4 separate regions of the Homo sapiens genome follow, and all the other regions are linked to region 2. Evidence: fine-mapped expression QTL. A gene starts in region 2. Each other region holds a variant in brackets. All regions are shown on one strand. Distances are between the middles of the regions.

The links. PIP is the estimated chance that this variant, and not a neighbour inherited with it, causes the effect. A credible set is the group of variants that fine-mapping cannot tell apart.
Region 1: its variant is the best candidate, but not a certain one, in a credible set for the expression of SLC9A9 in whole blood (TOPMed, PIP 0.50).
Region 3: its variant is the best candidate, but not a certain one, in a credible set for the expression of SLC9A9 in monocytes after LPS (Fairfax 2014, PIP 0.54).
Region 4: its variant is the best candidate, but not a certain one, in a credible set for the expression of SLC9A9 in blood mononuclear cells (TOPMed, PIP 0.84).

The regions. Positions count from the first base shown.
Region 1 is chr3:143,379,402-143,385,125 of GRCh38, forward strand. It overlaps SLC9A9 (solute carrier family 9 member A9), which reads right to left. Exons shown (of 16, transcript NM_173653.4): 13 at 2,659-2,713. Among named protein-coding and RNA genes, the nearest start is that of SLC9A9-AS1, 40 kb to the left of the region's middle. The variant TAAACAA/T (reference allele first, on the strand shown) is at 2,718.
Region 2 is chr3:143,844,865-143,850,553 of GRCh38, forward strand. SLC9A9 (solute carrier family 9 member A9) reads right to left here and starts at 3,604. Exons shown (of 16, transcript NM_173653.4): 1 at 3,284-3,604. The coding sequence starts at 3,458.
Region 3 is chr3:143,948,889-143,954,612 of GRCh38, forward strand. No RefSeq gene overlaps it. Among named protein-coding and RNA genes, the nearest start is that of DIPK2A, 20 kb to the right of the region's middle. The variant CT/C (reference allele first, on the strand shown) is at 3,057.
Region 4 is chr3:143,822,257-143,827,980 of GRCh38, forward strand. The region is part of intron 2 of SLC9A9 (solute carrier family 9 member A9); the gene reads right to left. Among named protein-coding and RNA genes, the nearest start is that of SLC9A9, 23 kb to the right of the region's middle. The variant G/A (reference allele first, on the strand shown) is at 3,001.

The DNA of each region.
Region 1 (5,724 bases), 470 kb before region 2:
CCATCAGAGCCCACTGTTTCCTGTACTTGATACTGAAGATAAGCATTATCCCAATGTGTGGAGAAAACCTCTTTCTGAAACGTAAGTTCTTTGGTAATCGAACATTATCATGAATAAGAACACTTACAGTATACTTCTTAAAAATGAAATCATTTGTAGGTAGCAGCAGTTCAGGAGGCGCCATGTCAATGATAACGCTACTTACTTAACATTTAGATAGTGCTGTATGTGTCCTCTACAGGAGGCCCCAAGTGAGAAATGTCTTTAAAAACATAGTGATGTTTCGTGTCACTTGAGGAGAGGGTATTATTTTTCCTTCTAATGATGTGAATTTAATATATTACCAATTATTATTTCTTTATTTCCCCTTTGGCCATCAGAAAGCTTACTTATGGTTTGACTACAGTAAGTCTATAAGGCCTTATGATCTGCTTATCCATGATTCTTTATACCCCTCTGGTTTTGACTATCTGCTCTTATTAATATTTTTTACTGATTTTTAAAATTTCTATAAAAATATGTTACTATTATATGTGGTGGTTTAAGCTGCCTCCAATCATCCATAAAATGAGATGGGTTTAGCTTAATTAAGTTGGGTCATTTTCATAAACCCAATTTCCCTTGATTATCATAAATAACATCCTGGAGAGGCAGACGTTATTATCATTTACATTTTATAGAGAGGGAAACTGAGACCCAAAGGTGTAAACACCTTGCCCAAGACCCAAATATCACAGAATTTTCACTGTTCTATGTTATGCTATCCTATTTCTCTAATAAAAAAGTAACTTTAATTGCTATAATATCTTCAGGTAAGGGTTATTACTGATTTAACAATGATGAACTTTGTTTTAAAGTGTCACATGAATGAGATAAAATAAAATACATTTAAATTGGAAAGGATTTAGGCTAGTAGGAAATTTTTACCAATAACAGTATATGTGATTGTAGAATATTAGGCAGTTAGAAGAAGACAGAGAATTTTATTTGATGAATTTTATAATTGTGTCTTTTCTTCTTTTAAAGAAAAAGGTATACAAGAAGGACAAAATTTAGATAAAAGTTTTCTTGAAGGTAGGAGAATGAATTATTTGACCTACACAAGATGAAAATGCTTTTTAAAAATCAGCCACCACCAGACATTACTGACTATTCATTATAGCCCACCAGTGTAAGGAGATGGGCTTTGATCTCCTTTCTAAGGTCACCAGGCTGGCTCTAATCCCAGTGCTTTGGGCACCCCTGCTGTGCTCCATCCTGCAGTTAGGTGTGTTTCCTGGACAATGGAGTCTGTGGAAACTGCCTGGCCTTGGAACACATGTGACAAAAAACCTCAAAGTACATGAGAGCCAGGATCATCACCAACTTAATTTCCCAGCCTTTTCCACAGAGCACAGGCTCCTTTCTTTTTCACATCTGTGTGTGCCAGGAAAGCAGTGTCTTGCCCAGGAAAACTCACCAGTTGTGCCTCATTGATGGTGTTATTGGAAAAACAAGCATGAAATAAAAGAGAGGGATTCCCTTAGAATACAAATACGCTCATAACACAATTCATTAAGCAATATCACTTATTTATGATATTCTCCTATTATATCTATGTCTGCCTACTTCTAATTTCAGCAAAAAGGTGTAAAATTTCCCTACATTTTCTTATTTGTGACAAGTACTGAGTTTAAAATGGTAGTGCAAAACTGACATTGATAGATTCTACTTTGACGTTAGGTTCAAATTCAGTTTGGAGAATGCATTTCCCCTACTTGAGGTGATATGGTTTGGCTGTGTTCCACTCAAACCTCATCTTGAATTCTAACTCCCACAATTCCCATGTGTTGTGGGAGGAACCTGGTGGGAGGTAGTTGAATTATGGGGATGGGTCTTTCCCATGCTGTTCTTGTGACAGTGAATGGGTCTCACTAGATCTGATGGTTTTAAAAACAGTTTCCCTGCACAAGCTCTCTCTTTGACTGCCACCATCCATGTAAGATGTGACTTGCTCTTCCTTGCCTCCTGCCCTGATTGTGACGCCTCCCCAGCCATGTGGAACTGTAAGTCCATTAAACCTTTTTCCTGTATAAATTACCCAGTCTTGGGTATGTCTTCATCAGCATTATGAAAATGAACTAATATATGAGGGAAGAACTCATTGTTCTAAACAATTACCCCAAAGGATTTTCAGGTCTCTGTAGATAATTGTTGCTCAATTAAGTCAAAGGATGGATCACCTAGACAGTTTTTTGGGCCTTAGACCTGATAAATGAGAAGCTATCCAGGAGAAATAAGTCAATTTGTTGTTTGTGCAACATGCATTGGACATACTTTGTGTAAATTTCACTGAGTTGGCTAGCTAGCAAGTTGCTGGGTAGGGATTTGAACTATGAAGTGCCTCATTCCAAGAGCCATCATATACTTTGTAAAGTTTCCAGACTTCCTGCTGCCATAGAGAGGCTTGCAAGTACATGCTAGTTCTAAGCATTCATATGCTAGAAGTTATCAACACCCTGAATTCCCTTGTATTTTATTGTAATCTCATTTGTTTTATCAGCAGAGGAAGCTCCGTTTAGAAATAGCTCCTTGGTCACATGCTGGACAAACATGGAACAGCCTATGGAACAGAACAATCATATCTCTATATAATGTGCATTGGTTTCTTTGACTTGCCTGGTGTTGTGAGGAGGGGTCCTCCTTCAGATTTTCATCCAGGTCCACGCCAACTCTGT[TAAACAA/T]AACCAAAAACTGGTCAATCCCCTGCTGCAGAAGGAATGAGACAGTCTTGTGTGTCAGATGACCTAACCCAAACACAATGTGAATCTGAGAAAAGATTTGGCAGAAAACTATCCTACGTCTTCTTGAATCAAAAGAACCTCAGATTTATACCAAAATAAGAACTTGAACAGCTGGGCCTCAGGATGCTGGAGAAATTAAGCATCAACAGCAGCTCTTCACTACTGTCGTTCCTGGCAAGGTAAGCATCCCTGAGAACCTAGGACAGCAGCCATCAGGAAAAAGACCTCCATAGCCCCAAAAACACACATTCTGGAAAGAAGGTGACCTGGTACCTCTGCAACCAACCATTGACCAAAATGCCCTGGGAATTTGTGTGCCCAGCCTGGAGCAGGGTTTCTTGAGGCAGAGTAAACAGAACGTTTTTCTAGAGACTCCCCATAGGGAGGATTCAGACTGTGGAGCCTGAGGCATATACAATTTGGGGGCTCTCTCTTTAAGGAAAATAATACAAAAATATAAACACAAAATTGGGAGTGAAAGTGACTCTTCAGAAGGATAAGTTACAAAAAAAATTACATATGTTTTTAAAGCTGGCAAATGCAATAGACCTCTCAAAGCCCAGGAAAAATACAAAACATTTTAATTAATTAGCTGTCTGACACACTGCTAAAATAACTTTCTTCCGGAATTTTTGCCTACTGACTTTGCTACTCTCTTTATATGATAATGATTTTGTATTAGAGAATAAAAAGATAAGGCAGTCTTTCCTCTAGCAAGACTGATCAAAATTGTTGATAGTTGGAAGGCATTAAAGCACTCTTTCTCACACACAGACACGCTTGCTATGTGCCTCACTGCTACAGGGTAATGCCCTGCAAATGCAAGATTTCTGATAATTTTTATTTTATGCAATTCCCATAAGCAATGCACAGTGTACTTATCAGTGTACATGCTTTGCCATTGAATATATTCCTGAATTTCCATTTTGATGAGGCATCAATGAAAACTGCATTTTATACATCTCATGATTAGAAGAATTTTCAACAGAGTCCCCAGTCTGGCTCAGTCCATCTCAAACCTTGTTTTTCCTCCACTACCCACAGACTTCTGATGCCAGGCACCATAGGACACGTTTATATTTAATTCAGCCTTGTGCATTATTCCTGTAAGCTGTTCCTACTCCGGGGTGGACAGCAGTGGCTTAGCCATGCACAGAAGTGACTGCAGCCCACACAAATGTATCGCATTCAATCTAAACTAAATGTACTCTCAATTCAGCTTCCCCTTAGTTGGATCCCCCAAATGCCCACAGCTATTCCAATACCATTTGATCAGAGAAGTATGAGGAAAAGGAAGCTGTAGTGGAAAGAAACAGCAGTTGAACCCAACTGTGTTGAAACTATGTATTTTTTTGCAAATCTTACAAAAATATAAGACCATGGGAACACAGTACTGGGGATCTTCCCAGGGCCTTGGAGGGCCAGACCAAGTGAGGGGCCCTGAAACTCAAACTTCCTCTGTTTCCAGAGAGAGTCCCTCTGCCTGCTTCAGCTGGAGTGGGGCAGGGTGGGAGTGCTGGGGAGAGGTCTGGCCCAAGCTCCACCAGAGCCCTTCCTGTGAATCCACATTTGCTAGACATTTAGGGACTTTTCTTCAACTCTTGTTCCTCATAAACACCTCCCTAATTATCTCCCAGTCCTGCTGTTGGGGTGGGGGAAGCAAGGCCATGTGAGAAGCCTCCAGTCAAGCAAATGTGTAACTCCTTATAAGGAGAACAGTAACGGTAAAGTCCCGCCTGTTTAAAATACCTCTGATTCTTCACAGGTAAGTGTCTTCTGGACATGAATAGCCCCATCTCTCTAACCAAGGGAACAAATTAATAGCTATTTATTTTGTGCTGAATTTTTTGCCTTTAGGTTACTGGGAAGAGCCTCTGGAGGGGAGGAACCTTTGATTCTTGGGGTAGAAAAACTAGCTATTTGATTGATGTCATCTGAGGAGGAACAAGAAGGGGAAGGGGAGGAGAGGGAAAGGATGTCAGTGAGGAGAAAGGAGAGGGGAAGGGATGAGGGGAGAACAGCAGTGTAGAGAGGGGTGGGGGTGGCCTGCCTCCGACAGTGGGACCCAGGTGTGGAGGCTCCCAGCCCCCTTCTCTTATGGGGCCAGGCCACTCTCACAGCTGTGTGGTGGATCAGAGCCCTCCAGCAGGTGCTGGCTGTTCCCTAGAGGCTTCATTGCTGGATAAACCCAGATCTCAGGGATGAAGCTGCTGGGCACCCAGGTTGGCCGTGAACTGAACTGAGGATCATGGGGCTCCCACCACTGTATCTGCTTAGGGCCTTTTTCTAGGTCTCTGTCTAGAAACCTGGAGAGGACAGAAATAGAATTTTATAAGAAGCCCAACATTTAACGTTTGAGGCAGCACTGAGGCCTTTCACTAAAGTGGAATCTTTTCTTTGCAGCAGCAATCAGAGCAGACATTCCTGCACAACTAGATGGGGCAGAGGAAGTGATGAAATTCTTTCATTTGATGGGGACTCAGTGGAAGGCATCTCAGAGACCTGACTGGGAAGAAGACTGTACCTCCTCCCACATCTCATCTCAGGGCAGGTCCAGAGCAGGACAAACGCCACAAGTGGCTTGAGGAAAGAGAACCTCCATGAAAGGTGTTTCCCTCCTGGGGAAGCCAGGGTGAACACGGTCCTTGCCCACACAGGGCATACGATTCGGGAGGTTCAATGAGGATAATATAAAAAATGTACCACAGCTTAAGGGCCATGAAGGAAACAATGCCTTCTTTCACTTGTGATATTAGCTGCTTTTGAGGAAAATCTGGCTAATATATGTTTCTTGGCTACCTGCCTCCTTAAATAGTGTGTAAGGGGGATATTCTAATCTTAACTGGAGGACTCAGCATTGCAACTGGTCCCATAAAGTCTGACACTTGCTTCTTTATAATGATTTCCAAGAGGTGTATGAACCTTTTTATGATCACGTTAA
Region 2 (5,689 bases):
TAAGTTTTAAACATAGTTTTGTTTCTTTTCTTCCCCATTAGTTATCACCATGCCCCCCTGCTCTTGCAAAAGCTAAGAGTTTAATCCTTTAATGGAAAGGGGGATAGTACAATGTGGGATGCTGAAAATTCACTCTTTTAGACCTCCTGGAAAAGAGAATCTGGCTAATCCTGAAAGCTTAACCATATGAGGATGCATCTAGATCCCACAGACACATCCTTTCTCCAGGAAAATTATTGCAATAATTTACTTATTTTTAAATATCTTAGCATCTCTTATTAAAGAGATGGAGGTTGAATCCCACCTCAACAGCTAACTAATTACACGACTTTTATCTCTCTAAGTCTTCATTTGTTTGTCTGCAAAATGAGAATGCTGGATTTATGATCTTTAAGGCTCCTTCCCCATCTATGATTCCAAGTTCATTTATAGCTGTTGGACAATTAATTCACTTGGCATCTCCTTTCCCCTATCATTAAAAAGTGTTTACTACAGTATCCCATCATGTTCCTCTGGTGTAGTTTCAGACTATTTTATTACATTACTGATAGAAAGTTCCTAATAAGCATTTAAGATATAACATTTAGGACATCCCTGAAGAAGAAATGTGACAAGTCATGAATGCCACCCATATGGAGTACTTTCAGAAAACACAGGGAGAGTTCTTTCAGGTGAACGTGAACCTTAGTAAGACATGCAGATGAGTGAAAGCACATGGACCAGTCATGAGTGGCTATTCAGTTTTGGAAAGTCCCTTCACTTCTCTGGGATTCAGCTTCTGCCTCTCTAAAATAAAGGGGATAGAGAAGATAACCTCTAAAATTCTTTGACATCCTAACAATTATGATTCTATGCCAAGAAAAAGTTAAACATCACTAAAATATGTCTTTTCATTGATCTATATAGTTCAAGATAACTGAAAGATACTCAAAATTTCTAGTAAGAGAATACATATATATGCATATCTCCATAATTTTTATAATCCTTTTACATTGCACTGGTTCAGAATTTGCTTTCAATAACTTTTACTTTAAAAAACTCATGAAAGAAGAATAGGAATCAGAGAACCCAACTTAATTCCACTCATAAACTTTAAGCCTTTATCTGCCTTAAGAACAGCAATTTAGAGAAATGCTACCTCAATAGCAGTGGTCAATGAACTACTATTTTATTATTTCAAGCACAATTTAAAAATATTTCAGAGAGTTTTGCAGGATTAAAGGTAACCTGGAATTTTTCAGATTCAAAAGTAAGAGTTACTGTATGTATTGTGAATGCAAAACATGACTGAATTTTAGTAGGTTATCAAAACTTTTACGAAAACAATATCCCCACCATTGAACTTGGTAAATGAGTCATAGTTCAATCAAATTCAGGGATGTGAAGAAATCTTTCCCTCTAATAAAGGTTGGCAATCTATTAAATCTGGGTAGTTTTGCTAAAGCACATATGTCCCTTTAATATGATATCAAGAATTACATTGTTTCTGGCTTCTCAGATTCTATTCCATATCCTTGCAGATTACTTATTAGTCAAGTCAAGAGAAAAATTCTGTTCATGATGGAGATAGGCAAATGACAGGAACCTAGGGCTTCACATCTGATGGCATCCCCTCCTTTTTGTTTGGCTATTTCTCTCCCACCTGATTGTGATTTTTTTTTTCTCTTAAATGAGAGTTTTCTTGTGCCCGTTAAGACCCTCAATACTGGCTGGGAATGGTGGCTCATGCCCGTAATGCCAGCATTTTGGGAGGCCAAGGTCAGTGGATCTCTTTAGGCCAGGAGTTGGAGACCAGCCTGGGCAACATAGTGAGACCCTGTCTCCACTAAATTTTAAAAAATAAATAAAACAATACAGCAAAAAAAGGTTTTTTTTTTTTTTGCATTTGGGTTATGTTTTTTTTCTTTTTTTAATTATACTTTAAGTTTTAGGGTACATGTGCACAACGTGCAGGTTAGTTACATATGTATACATGTGCCATGTTGGTGTGCTGCACCCATTAACTCGTCATTTAACATCAGGTATATCTCCTAATGCTGTCCCTCCCCACTCCCAAGCAAAAAATTTTTAAAAGACCCTCAGTACCAAGGAATTTAACTCTGTGCTCTGAATGGATCAGCATATCAGCCTCCTGAGCCTGAAACTTCCGCCTTATAGCTCAAGTATCTCACAGTGGGATCCACTTAAGGCTTAGGATTCCTTAGGTTCTGAAATCACAACTATACACTGTTAATATCAGGACACCACAGGATTAGCATATACAATGTGCATTGATCTGTACCCTGAATCTCAGGCTTAGGAAAGGGTTTCAGGATTTCCAAAATGAGGAAACCCCAAATATAAAAGTATGTTATTTGCTATAAATTATAGCAATGCCTTGCCTGTTGCCATTGTGTTCAAACTTCCTATCCATTATCAGGCTGAGATAAGAGCAGTGAAGTAAACTATTTCATCAGTAACACCAGTAAAAACTGGTGTCTTTCATTTTACTTTAAAAGATGAGAGTACAGACAGATAATCTCTGTCAGACTTTATTAAACTTTCTGAAAGGAATGATACGGTAAGTTGCCCAGAAAGAGCAATACTGCAGGTGTTAAATATTTTTCCACACCTTGGCCTCCAATACATAAATAGGAGATACATAACAAATAACACTAGCAATGATCATTATAAATTAGAACATCTGAAATCAGGCTAAGAAGTAAAAAGTACTGCATAAAGAAACTCTCGTTTATTTATAACTTTTTATTATAAGAAAATAAGACACTGTTCGTATAAATAAAAAGGACTTGGACACAATATTCTCTTAAGAGGGGTGGGGTTAGTTTCTGCAAGTTTTCTTCTTGAAATTAGTTGATATAAGAGGAATTACTCCAGGCATTTTGAAGTGATGTTTTTTCTAGAACTTCGTAATGTTCATCGGTGCAGCCAGTGAGAGAAGGCTGCTCTTTGTGACTGCAGAGCCATCACTTCCCAACATCATTACAAAAACAAACAGCTCGCCCTCGACTCCCCACATGACAATGGACCCGCATCTGTCAACAGACTTGCATTATGTGCCGTGTGAGAACATGACTGTGACATTTGCTCTCGTGACATGGCAAATTTCGGCGGCTTGTCTGTAAAGAGATTAGCATTCGTTACGCTGCAGCACCTTTCATCAAACTAATGACATTTCAATCAGCACATTTTCTCCAGTTTCGGTACTTTGCTATCTGAGCACAAGTCTCTAATTACGCTCAAGCAACAAGTTTCACATCAATCTCACAATTTATGCACTCACCATACACCATTGCTCCTCCAGTTTCATGCAAGAAGCGGAATCGATGATTTTTAAATAACCAGATTGTCAAAATGGTAAGGATGAGCAAAAAATTGAAGACAAGCAGCTCCACCGCTCCCTGATGTTGAAACTGATACTCATCCTTTTCTGACATAACCCTTGACTGTCTCTCCATTCCCCAGTCTTCTTGGGATTCCTTAGATAAAAACCTGGATAAAGGCTATTTTATCAAGATTTGCCTAAGACAGTCTGACTGCCTGAGAATTTCAGAAGAAACACTGCCACTTTAGTTGCTACTTCACAAGCATTCTGCCCTGGCTTAGTATTCAGATGGCTTCTAGTTACAACTTCCTGTTTCTCTCTTAAAGCAGCCCTGTCTCTTTTCAAACTCGAGAGTGTGTGGTTTCATCACTGACTCTTAATGTCTTTAAGTGATTCATCTCATGAAAATATCTTTCATACTGGACAAATCTGCAAGCAATGATGCTAAGATCTTGAATCACGGTCTTATTATTCCAAATAAGTCTTCTTAAGCTGCATAAATATGAACTGTAGATTAATAATAAAAAAGGTAGCCTTACACTAGCAACGTTTTCTAAGTTCAAAAAGCCAATTCCTGACTCAACTTCACCTAAATGCAAGATCTTTCCTCTCTAACCAAGACCTGCCAAAGTGATGGGGATTGATAGCACAGTTATCAATCAGCCTCTGTGCTCTAAATGGATCAGCATATTAGCCTCCTGAAAAGATATTACACTGCTTAGCCTGAAACTTCCGCCTCATAGCTCAAGTATCTCACAATGGGATTCACTTAAGGCATAGGGTTTCTTATAGGGTTTCTTATGCTCTCAAATCATGACTGTACATTGGTTAAGCAAACCTAAAGTGATTTCACAGGATTTTTTTTTTTTTTTTTTAGTTGAGAAGCAAGAAAGGATTTAGTATATGACTCTATTTGGCTTTATATAATTGATAGTTGCAGAGCAGCCTTTAAACTCTAAATCAATTGTTTTTCTTTTAACAAGAGAAAACAATGAAAGCAAAAGACAAATAAAATTCCATCCCCATCTCTACAACTGTACTGTTTGGATACGTTGAGACAAAAAAGAAAAAAAACAAAACACATTACTTCGAAAGAGAAACTCACGCAGCCATCCTCAGCAACGCCACATGCATGGATTTCTCTTTGTAGGGTTCCTGGTCTCGGCATCCAGGACCCACAGAAATCTGCAATAGATCACAACCTCCTCTGTCCTATGGCAAAACAATGTTGCTCACTGAGAAATGGTTCTGCCACCAGAAATGAAAGCTCTGTATTCACAGGATTCTGATCATAAGAGTGATGATTCTTCAGATCATCTTCCATGTGGCAGGTTGCTCCTGTCTGATTTCATATTTTTCTACTTTAAAATAGTTCAAGATAATACCATGGGTTCTGCAGCTTTTTTTTCCTTTTCTTTCTTTTTTCTTAGCAAATATTATGACCTGCTTGCTTTTAACACTTGATCCTATAACACATTTGGGTATATCCTGGGGTTAGCTGATTTTTTTTTTCATTTTACCATATCATTGTAATTTGGGAGTATTAATCACTTATGATCCCCATTTTGACACAATTAATGCTCAATTTATACAATGTGATTTCTTATTGAGTAGGCTGAGCCCAAATGCGTCCTGAAACAATTTTTGTCACTAAAAGCTAAAGGTCAAGCATGTAATATTATTGGGAGCTAACTACCTCCTCAACAAACAGTTTCACCATGAGAGCAAGTCTATCAACCCCTTAATACAAAGCTCTGCTGTTTCAGCATCTTTGCTTTGTGCAACTTTGGAAGCTTATTTCCTCTCTGAGTTTAACTTAGCAGAGGGTATTTATGTGTGCTGCAGATGTTCTTCTGACACGCTACCCTTTTTGGCAGGAATATCTGTGATGACTAATATTCATACTGTTTTGAAACCTATCAGCTAATGCTTGCAAGCATTTCATGGAGCTTTGCTAGCAGGTTCTACCTTTATGATTTTGCAACTCCACAGGTTCAGTCGAGTTGTCAGATATACAAGATAACACAAATTCAGAAACTTCCTGTCCTTTTGTTTTTTGTCATTATTGAATTACTTTGGTTTTCTTTTATCACAATTATTCCATCTGAGTAGAATAAACATTCTCTGGTTGATCCGTGACATCCAGTTTCACTCTTTTAACCAATGAAGCAACTTGACAAAAGATTAATGGCCCATAGAATGTTTTGATTGGCTTACACGTCTTTTTAAAAAGTTTTAGGTTTGATGTCAACACATTCAAATCAGTATATTTAACATTTAAAAAATCATATGGCTTTTTGCAAGAAAAACTTGTAAGATCTGGCACACTGGGCCCTTCTTACATGGCCACAATCTGTTGGGGCT
Region 3 (5,724 bases), 100 kb after region 2:
TCTGTTAAGGTCAGCCTTCCAGGAGACAGTGGGGAGTAAAAAAGGAAGAGTAGGGAGGAAGGAGCAAATGAAGCATAAGCAGCATGTCTTCAAAGTCAATTAGATTGTGATTGATGCCACCATTTTGAAATTTTCTCTCCCTTATAGATTATGGCAAATGTTTACTTATTACCCAAAATAAAGTGTGTCTGGTATCTTCAGTATTTTATACTGGGCCAAACAAATGCAGCTTATGACTGGCTGCTTGCTTTTGTAAATGAAGTTTTATTGGCATCCAGCCACACCTGTCTACTCTACAAAGGTAAAGTTGAGTAGTTTCAAGAATGACCATGTGTCCTACAAAGTCTAAAATATTTGCTGTCTTGTCTTTGACAGAAAATGATTGCTAACCCCTGGTTTAGACAGACTTTCGTTTTTGTTCCATTCTAATTTACCAGAATGTTTTCAAAGTGACTTAAAGTTTATATTTTTTGAACTGGATTTGCTCTGTGAAACAATTCAGATTATTTTACACTAAAAATCAAATTATTGTTAAGTTTGTAATAGTGAGGCTAGCACATGCAGCTGAAAAGTGGCAAAATAAAGTGTTTGTTTTGAAAATATCTTTTTTTAAGACCACAAACATCTGGATGTTTCCCCAGACATATAGAACACCACCTGATTAAATCATTTATATTTAGGCAGGTGCATTTTGTAAACACTTTACCTAAAAACAAAGCCTTAGAGGTAGAAATAATAATTTCAAGTATCATCTTTGTAAAAAATATTTCTAATTTAAAATGTAAGCTTTCTTGCACTTTTAAAGTGCACCAAGAGGTACAAACAAGTATACAACTCTGTCAGAGATTTTGGAAAATTTAAAGAATTTGATATTATCTTTTTTCTTTTCTTTCTTTGGTGACGCAATCTTTGCATTTTAATTATGTGAATGATAGAAGAAATGGTTGTGATGTTTTACACAAGGTCTCAAAACTCAGAATGAACAATGTATTTTTCATTTATTATATAGTAGAGTATCAACCAAGTGGTATGAGAAGTGTTCCGAGTACTTAAGTTGAAATAAAACATATTTCTTGGTCCTTCAATGTCAGTTCTCTTAATTTCAGAATGGTGTTTGGTTCAACATATCATTAGAGCCAAATAGATTATCTTGAAAGGATCTGGGACTTTGGACCCAACTGGAGGCTTGACTGTTGGTCCAACTACTTTCTAGCTTGTCTGAACCTAAATTTCCACCGAATAAAATGGAGATAATATTGGATAATACTTTTCTTGGAGACGTGGTATGTATAGTGCCTGAAAAAGAATAATGAAATAATAGCTCTTATTTATCGACTATGTGCCAGCCACTAAGCTCAGTGTCATATACTTTACTGTTATTATATCTAATTCACAGATGAGTTAGTTGAAGTGTTAACTTCCAGTTTACAAAGAGCAGCCACTGATCATCTAGTGCCTACTACATGCTGGGGTAAGGGAAATTGTACATATTTTCTCATATAGTGTGCAGTGCCAGGAGGTAGATGTTATTATCAACTCCAGTTTACAAATGAGAAAATTAAGATTTAAAGAGGTTAAATAGTCTGTCAACGTTACACAGCTAGTAAGAGGCAGAACTAGGATCAGAATCCAGGAAGACAAATTCCCAGGGCCTTTGCCTTTAACTTTTACTATACTGCCTCAGCAAGGCGTAGGTATTATTATTATTGCTATTGCCATAGGTATTACTTAAATAAAAATCAATGCACTAAAAACCACAGTGAAGTATATGTCTGAAATTTGACAAACATATTTAGGGAACCAAATAATTTTAAGTATAATCTCTAGAGTTGAGAGCATCCAACTTGGTACTGAATTGCAAAGTAGATATGAAGACAACTTCTAAAAGTCAAAATATAACTAAACACTCCAGCCCTGGATCCACTTCCCTAAGCCTTCAAGGAACAAAATTTGAAATTTTTTATTCCAAAGTTATGTTTGCATTCACATCAAACATTTTAAATAGTATGTGCTGCTGGGAACTGACAAACCCCAAAGCTATTATGGGCCTTGTCAATTTTCAAGCGCTGAAAAAGTAAGGTGTAGTAATGTTTATGAAAGAACATGATGCCAGATGTACTTAATGTCAGAAAAATCAGTTTGAGTTCCTGTGTTCTTGTAACCTCACTGCAGATTGTCAGCCCAAGTGATATGCAGAAAATATATAGCTTGCCTGACTGCCTTTACCCAAAGAGTCGATATTATGGAATAGATGGATTAGAATTTCTATTTGAATAGACATTTTTTTCTCTTCTGATTTTTTGTTCATTTGCATGGCTGCTAAAATTTCTGCAAACAAATTACATATAACAGGGAAACTGCTGAAGAACTTTGGTTTTTATTACATTTGAACAAGTTTTGAAGAAAATGTCTTCTAACAATAAAATACAGTGTTCAAATAAAATCAAATACTTGTTGACCCATTCTAAGCAAGCCACTTTGCAAATTCTGCAGGAAGCATAAGACTAGTCCATACCTTGCAACCTGGAAAGAAAATGCTAGAAGTGCAAATAGTTAAGGACTAGTCCTTCTTTTTTGTTTTGCATTCTCATGATTCCATTCTTTCTATACTCATGATGTACCATAATTGACCCTTTGTGTCACCCACTCATTGGAGAATTTCTGAACATGTGAGCATGCCACCTGGTGGTGGATAGATGTTTACCAGGCATTTGCAAAGGATTGATTGAAACTTTTTGGGTCCTTTAAGAAAAAAGCAGTATCCTGAGGCTTCTGATTGCATTATTAATTATTCAACTGATTTGTTCCAATAGTTTTGTTTTTCCAGCATTACAGTCAGATCTTATTCATTATTACCATGAGAATGTTTTAGTAGGTCAGTATAATGAGCCTAAAATAACTAAGGTAAAGTTCTATAGTCTGAGGGATTCCTGTCTTTCTCACATTGCCTAGGAGCGTAATGAGAATTGAAGATATAGTATCAATAATGCAGTTCCTGATTCAGAGGTCATGTTGAGAGTGGATTTCATAGGTCTTAAAAACACTGAATTTTCCTT[CT/C]TTTTTTTTTGCCATTCTAGGGTGTTAGATTTGACAATTCAAAACCAGATTCTGAAGAATTTAAATTCCAAATTAATCTGGAAAATTTATAATGCACAAAGAACTCATTTTTATGATTACTACATTAAAAGCTTTAAAAGGCAAAATTAAATTTATTCCTAAGCATAGACTGTTTTTATAGTAGCTTTGTATTGTTGAAGATAGAAGAGAATAAATTAATACTTCTACAATACACCTCAGTATATTGTTTAAAATTTATAATAACATGCTGATTTTTGGAAGAGAACCTTAACTGTTCCCTCATCAGTATGTGGAGTTGCCAGATAAAATACAGAATGTCCAGTCAAATTTTAATCACAGACAAATAGTATCGTTTTTAGTATAAGTATGTCCCATGAAATATTTGAGATATATGTTACTAAAGAGAGTTCCTTGTTTATTTAAATTCCAGATTTACCTGGGAGTCTTGTATTTTTATTTGCTAAATCTGGCAACCGCATCAGTAGGCTAATGTCTTTGAATGGTTTTTCAGATAGTGCTCATGAGGTCAACTGGCCATCAACACTTTTTACATTCATTCACTCACTCATTAATTCATTTAACAGGTATTTGAATACCTTCCATACTGGTGTTAGCATCAGGAATAGTTTTCCACAAACCCCATACCTCATAGAACACATCCGTGATTCTCAATCTTGTAATCTCAGTATTCTCAATCTATTGTAATCAGTTGGGAAACTTAAAAAAAAAAAAGTTAATGATGTCCCAATTGGATCCCTCAAATATTCTGAATTACTTGTTCTCGAGTTTTGCCTACTCATCAGAATTTTATAACCTCCCCAGGTGATTATAATGTGTGGCCCCAGTTGCAAGCTGCTTGCTGTAGATGAAGACAAATTAGGTTTTCTTAGGCCTTATCTTTGCAATGCCTGCACCTGCCACCAGATGTGCCAATTAATGCTTGTTTCACTGAGCAGATCGACTCTTTTCAGAGAAGCAAATTGGCTTACAATTTTAGCTGATTGAAATTTTTCCAAAGCAAAATAACTCTTTATTAAGCTAGCATTACACATTTTAAAATTAAACCATTTTGCCTCAATTTTAGAACTACGAATTATTTAAATAAATGCATTCATCCATTTACTCAAAAATGTTTATTTCTATCTAAGCACTGGGCACTGTACCAGGCACTGGGGATGGAGCCATGAAAAAGACAAAGCTCCTATTCCTGTAGGAGGGACAATTCATATGAAAACAGAAAATAAATACTTGCAAGGAAAAAAATGAATAAAGGGGTAAAAAGGAATTGAGTGGTGGAGAGCATTGCAATTTAAATAAAGCAATCAGAAAAAAGCTTCATAGAGGACATTTGACAGATACATGAATGAGGTGAAGAACTGAATCATGCAAACATCTCTGGAGACAGGTGAAAGAAATAGCAAGTGGAAAAGCCTTGAGACTTGAGCCAGCTTGGTGTGTTCCTAGTAAGAGTTGGAAGGACAGCATGACTAGGCCAGTGTTAAGGGGACAGCAGTATAAGATGAAGCCAGAATGGTATGTAGGCCCTTAGGCCAAGGTAAGGACATTGAGCCATATTCCAGATGTGATGGGAAACCATTCAAAAGTTTTGGGCTGTGGAGTAACAGGTATGTTCCAATTTACATAATAAATATATCACTCTGGCTTCCATCTAGAGACTGAGTGATAGGTAATGGTTGGGTAAAAGCAGACAGGCATTTAGGAGACAACTTCAATAGGTCAGGTGAGAGATAACAGTAACTTGGATTAGGGTGGTAGCAGTCAAGGTTTCAACAAGTGTCTGGACTTAGAATAGACTTTGAAAGTGTCCAGCAGTACTTGCTGATAGGCTGAATGTGGATGTGAAGGAAAGAAGAAATAAGAATGTTTTAATTTTATCCATCTTCCAAGATGGAGATAACAAGCTGACACATAAGTTCTAGTAGGGCTATGTTAAATTAAAGGTGCCTAATGATCATCCTAGTGGGCGGGACCATTTGGCAGATATGTACATCTGGAGTTCACAGAAGCAGTCAGGGCTGCAGAAATAAATTTAGATCATCAGCTATACTGAGAGGAGTGGTTTTTTTCCCCTCAAGTTTAACATATTGGACTGTTTTTAAACAAAGTGGGGCAGTCATTTCCTTTCACAGTGAATTACCTTCTCTAGGAGTTATACCTGTGACCTCTAAATTATACTAGCACTTGATAATGTAATTACAATTATTTACTACAGAAAATGTACCTAAGAGAAAACTTGCCCCCTACAAATTTTAAAATGTTCTTGGCAGGCACGTGTAAAGCAACCATGAAAAGTATATTGGATGATGCATGAGGTCTTTTTAGACTATAATGAGAAAGGTCTTCTTATGACAAAGAAATGATCATTTTCAGCTATAACTGTGTTTTCTCTTAAAATGGTTTTATCCTGTATTTTAATTTTCAAACAATCCAAAAGTATTTTTAGTAAGTAAATTATGAATAAAAATTTATTTTTATGCTATTGTATTTTAAAAATTAGTTAATAAAGTTAGCATTATTTTTGATAGCTTCCACGGAGAATTTTAATACATCAAGTACATTCTATTATAATAGTCACAAGAGGATATTCAGTTTGTAAAATTGTTGAAAAGCTGAGTTATAGTAGAA
Region 4 (5,724 bases), 23 kb before region 2:
GGGCACTTGATGAACTTCCTGCTCACTACACACTACCTGAGGGTCCACCACTTTTCTGGGAACCCATCATATGACAGTTAGAAAGAAAGATGAAGACCACTCGAATTTGCAGGACATTCTTGCTCCACACACCCCAACCTGGGGCAGAACTCGATAAATCAGAGCCCACTTAGTCCTGTGATCAGAAATGGATGTGAAGGGAGCAGCTGGGAGACTCCATAACTCCAGGCAAGCTTAAAAGGCAACAAGAGACAACCAGCTGAATGTGCAGCTTCGTTAGGTCCCCTCCCCTCCTGTGCCCAGCTGTCTGTGGAGCCTACCTCAGGCTGTATCTGTTACTAAACAGGAGCTTCCTAATGACCTCAGGAGAGAACAGGGAAATGCAGCTGGGTGGAACTTTAAATAACTACTCGCTGGAGACCAGCAATGATAAATGTGCACTCTTGCCACAGTTTAATATTTTAGAAGGAACAAAGCAATGGGGAAAAGAATTGAAAGATCCATTGTAAATATTATTTACTCAGACTTAAAGTACAATGGGAAATCTCTTTTTTCCCTTCCACTCTCTCTCTGTTTTCTGTTCTTTGCTCAGGCTCCTTTTCTCTCCCTCTCTCCCTGCCTTGAATCTCTCTCTGCCTCCTTCCATCCCTACGCAATTATTTGGAGAGCAGACTTTTTAGCAGTTCAGTCCTCTGAGTAGTAAACAACCATCACAGAGCACACATAATTCACCCTGAGGAGAAATCTGAGGTTAGATGCTTGGTTACAAAATAGCCAGCAATTAAGACAGGACAGAGTAGCAGTAAAAAGGAGCTACTGACAAGCAGAGAATGATAGATACCTGGTTACATCATCCATTCATTTATCAAGATCCACAGAGAATTCACCATTTGCCAGGAATCATGGAATGAATGTGACCACTAAACAGACCTAGTCTCTGCCCTCCTGGAGCCCACAGTCTAGTGAGACTGTAGACAAGTGACATTGAGAAGACAGACATGAATCAAAACATTATAGAAGTAAATATTAACTTACAACTCAGCTAAAATGCAGTGGGGGAATGTCAGGTGGAGCTATGAGACTGCAGACCTATGAGACAAAAGACCTGGATACTGTAGTAGAGTAGCATGGGGACATTCGGGGTGAAGATGAGTGTTCTCCCAGAGGTAATCAGCCCCTAAGAACATCCTCATGTCAGGCCAACAGCCCATGCACATACTGGTGCCGCAAGACTCAGAATACAGAATTTAAGATTTCAGAAAAGACACAAAGGATAAATGCTTGAGGGGATGGCTTTCCCATTCTCCATTATGTGATTATTTCACATTGCATGCCTGTATCAAAACATTTTATGTAACCCATAAATATATATACCTACTATGTACCCACAAAAATAAAAAATAAAAAAATTAAAAAATAAATTAAAAATTAAACATTAAAAAAGATTTCAGAAAAGAGTGGAATTTTTAAAGGTAGATGTTATCAAAAATATTTAATAGTTACAATAAAAATAAAATTTTAATAAAATATAAGATATTATATTGTTCTCTAAGATGAGGTGTCCATATCTTAGAGAATGGAAAGGATGATTTTGGTGTGCAAAGGACATACTGGAACTTCTGTTTATATTTCATTTTATCTCATCCTTTTAAAAAATTCTAGTTTGATATCTGCTTTATAATGTATAGAGTATATTGATACAGTAGTCCTTACATCCAACTTGTAAATAAAAAGGTATATGGATATATTCTCAAACGCATTTCACTGGTGGGTGCATAATCAAAAGTTTGGAAGTTAGTATTTGCGTGGTGCATTCTGAAGGCAAGCTTTCAAAAGTGGCCATGGTACCTCATGGCACTTCCTGCCCCTAGGAGCAGAGTGTCCCTGTGTTTCTAGATTTCCAATCCCTATTCCAAGATGATCTCTCTCTTCTTCTCTGCCCTTCTCTACTTTAAAAAATATTTTTTTCTAAAACTTTTTATATATACAAAATGATCTTAGAATATTCATGAATAAAATGGCAAAGAGCTGGCAGGAAAAAAAAACCAAAAAACCAAAAACAAAAAACTGCCTTCCAGAAAGCAGCAGGCACTTACTGTTACTTAGTTTTGTCCTCTGCTTTGAAATTCCCTTCTTCCAGATTTCTGCATGGCATAGTCCCCACTTCATTAGGACTCAGCTCCGATTCACCTCAGTGAGGCCTTCTCTGCAGGACATATCTAAAGACCCTTCACTCCGAACCTTCTAATTTTGCTAACTTCTCTTCATAGCACTTGCCTCCACTTGGCTCTGGATTACAAATGCTTGTGCTGAACTTCCTTTGTCTATCCCCCTCCAGGAAGTTAAACCCCATGAGCACAAGGACTTCGTTTTGTTCACTACCATACTTGCAGCACCTAAAACCAATGCCTGGCAAGTGGCAAGTGCTCAATAAATAAATATTTTTTGAATGACTGAAGGAATGAAGAAAATCTGTGTTGTTCAATGATGAAATCAAAACCAAATGGAATATTTAGAGTCTTTAAATACATTTCTGAGGTCATCTCACAGGCCAACTTTTTGCCAAAAATGTTGAATGAAAGTGGAAGAAAACAGCTAAAGCAAACAAATTTTTAGTTTCTTTAGTAACAGCAGATCTCTTAAATAAGGTTTAGGATGAAAGGAGCTGCATCCGCCCAAACAGCCTCATCCCATTTACTGCCAAACTTGACATTCTCTGGAACCATCTCACGTGGTAGGAGCCAAGAATTGTCATGATAGAGAAACACAAATCATGGAGCCCTATTCTCTGTTGAAAGGAAGAATAATTGATAGTATCCTACAAATGCTTCTCCACACCCCCAATGCTGATTTATCATCATGAAGCTTGCTTTCTCTCAGTGTGCCTAGAAAAGTTTCTTAAAAAATTTCTTTTCAGTCCTTTGTTTATCCTCCCCAAGAGTGTCCTAGTGTTAACTGTACATATTTATCTCATGGCCCAATGACTCTCTCTGCTCAAGC[G/A]ATTCCTGTTACAGGAAGAGGTTTGCCCCTGGCCTTATTGAAGCTCAAGTAAAGGAAAAGACTAGAAATGCAAATGTAGTTTACAAATAAATATATGAGAATTAAAACTCTGAATGATGAAAAATCAAAATCACCATTAGGAAAAGTTGGATGGTGAGAAAAAAAAAAGGACTTTGATTTATTTATTTAAAGCTACAAAAAATTAATTATTTAATTCTTCAAAAACAAAATTACTTTTAAAAGTCTTATGGTTAGTTGTTTCTATAAGGGCTTCCTTAAAGTAGCTCTAAAATATGTAGTATTATCAACACAATTGAAACGAGCTCTGATGACCTATTTGCAGCTTGGCAATTCTCTTTATTGAAAGAATAGAAAGGACAGATTGCTCAGCAGTGTAACTCACTTCAAAGTAACTTCCTTTACCAAGCGATAGTGTCTACTTGTCACACAGGAAGTGAAGACTTGGCAAAATTTTCGCTGGGTAGTTTCCTTTGACTTTTTGCATTACAGTCAACTTATCTATGAGTGATAGGAAGTGTAAATTTAACTGTACTGACAACTTTTTGATAATCTACTGTATCTGCAAGACTTTTCCAGCCAAATGGCCCACTGACCCTTCCAACTGAGTATTATAAACACCTAACATGCTAAATCAATGATGAATAAATTAATGATGAAATAGATTGATTCATTCATTCATCAGTTTAAAACCACATTTGTGACCAGGCACTGTGGCTCACACCTATAATCCCAGCATTTTGGGAGGCTGAGGCAGGCAGATCACTGGAGGTCAGGAGTTTGAGACCAGCCTGGACAACATGGTGAAACTCCATCTCTACTAAGAATACGAAAAGTAGCTGGGCGTGGTGGCACATACCTGTAGTCCCAGCTACTTGGGAGGCTAGGGCATGAGAATTGCTTGAACCTAGGAGGCAGAGGTTGCAGTGAGCTGGAATCGTACCACTGTACTGCAGCCTGGGCGACAGAGCAAGACTCTGTCTTGAAAAAAAAAAAAAACCACCATATTTGTGATTTGTGATTTTCTCCTACAAATCAACTCCTTCTTCTAACTTTTAACTTCCACATTTTTGCCTCACCACCCTTCTGTGAACCCACATGACCAGGGTAGCAGAGGAAGCTGTTTTTCCTCTTCTTCTGACTAGTTGGGCCAAGCCCTTCACAGCCTTCCTTCCTCGTTTTTCTTGCATCTACCTCTTGGTTACCATCCAAGTCTAGGCTTCATCTGTCTCTTTGCTTTCACTCTCTACCCTGTACACAGCAGGCACACTATCCTTTTGCTTTTGTCAACATTACACTGTTCCTCTGACTACAAATAGAGAGGGCATTACTCAGCCTGGCATTCAGGGGCTTCCAAATCAAGGTCTGCCTTCATTTTCAGCTCTAGGTTTCACTGGTCTTCCACACTTCAACAAATTGGAAATGCTTTTTCTTTCCTGGAATATTGTCTACCCCTTTTCCCACATCCATATCATGCTTTTCCTTCTGCATGGAATTCCTCCCCTCTGTCCCCCCAACACCACACATACCCCTATCATCAGAGTCAATCAACTGCCCTTCTTAGAAATCTTTCCTATTACCCTTAATAAGAGACCATACTGTCCTGTTCTGGACGCCTGTGGTTCTTGTCCCACTTTTTTGATACGTGCCTTTAGTGTTACTCATTCATTTATTCATATGCTATGTTTTTCTCTGATTTACTACTAAACTCCTTGGGACCACATCTTGTTTCAGAATTGAAATTGATAGGACTCAGTTCATTTGTGTTGAAAGAATAAATGAATGAAAGTATGAAACAGAAAGTTATTTTATCATCTTCTCTTCAAAACAGGTTTTGAACTTCCTATTGACATAAAATGCAGAAATATTTGGTAGACATTTTGGTATTCCTAAATATTACATAACAAACTTATGTTTGCAAAGCTATCATGTAATAGGATGTAGGCCCTAAAGGGTTACAACCAGTTGCAGGTATCTTGTATACACAGAACAATTTGACAAATGGTGGTGGAAACATTGGCTGAACAGATACAGAGCAACATGGTCTTGTTTTATCCTCTTAGAAGGTTGTTTTGAGTTCATCGTCTGCTCATAACATATAGAAGAATACTGTTTTCACCAATCTTTAAGTGAAAATATTTTTTTTCTTTTCTACACTTTTATCTGTGTTGAGCATGAACAAAACAAGTTTGGCATATGGTGTTTCCTGAAATTTTTATATGTTTAAACATGGCATAAAATCACAGTACATTGCTGTTTATATAAATGCCAACAGCTCTCATATTTTCCAGTTTTATACCTTCTTATTGGAAGGAACTCACAGAGCCATCAAACCAGTTCTGTCTCTAAGCACGTCAATGCCTAACCATCCCAGAAATACACGTGCTCTTATAAAATCTTCTAAGAGGCCATTACATAGCACAAGAATTCATTCCAGCCTCTCCAAATCCTGAAGTCAGAAATTTCATCCAAGACACTAAACTATATTTTTCTAAGAGTAAAACCCATTTTCAAATCATGTAACTTTTAGAAACAAAGGCAAAATACTCCCTTTAAAATATATCACAAAGGAAAAGGACCCAGTGGGGCCACACTAATGGCTTCTGTGACTCTGCTGAGCCGGACTTCTTCCTCAACTCTGACCTCCCTGCACTCTTTCTAGCACTGGTCATCTCCTTCTGCCTGTCTAACTGTGAAACGCTCTAG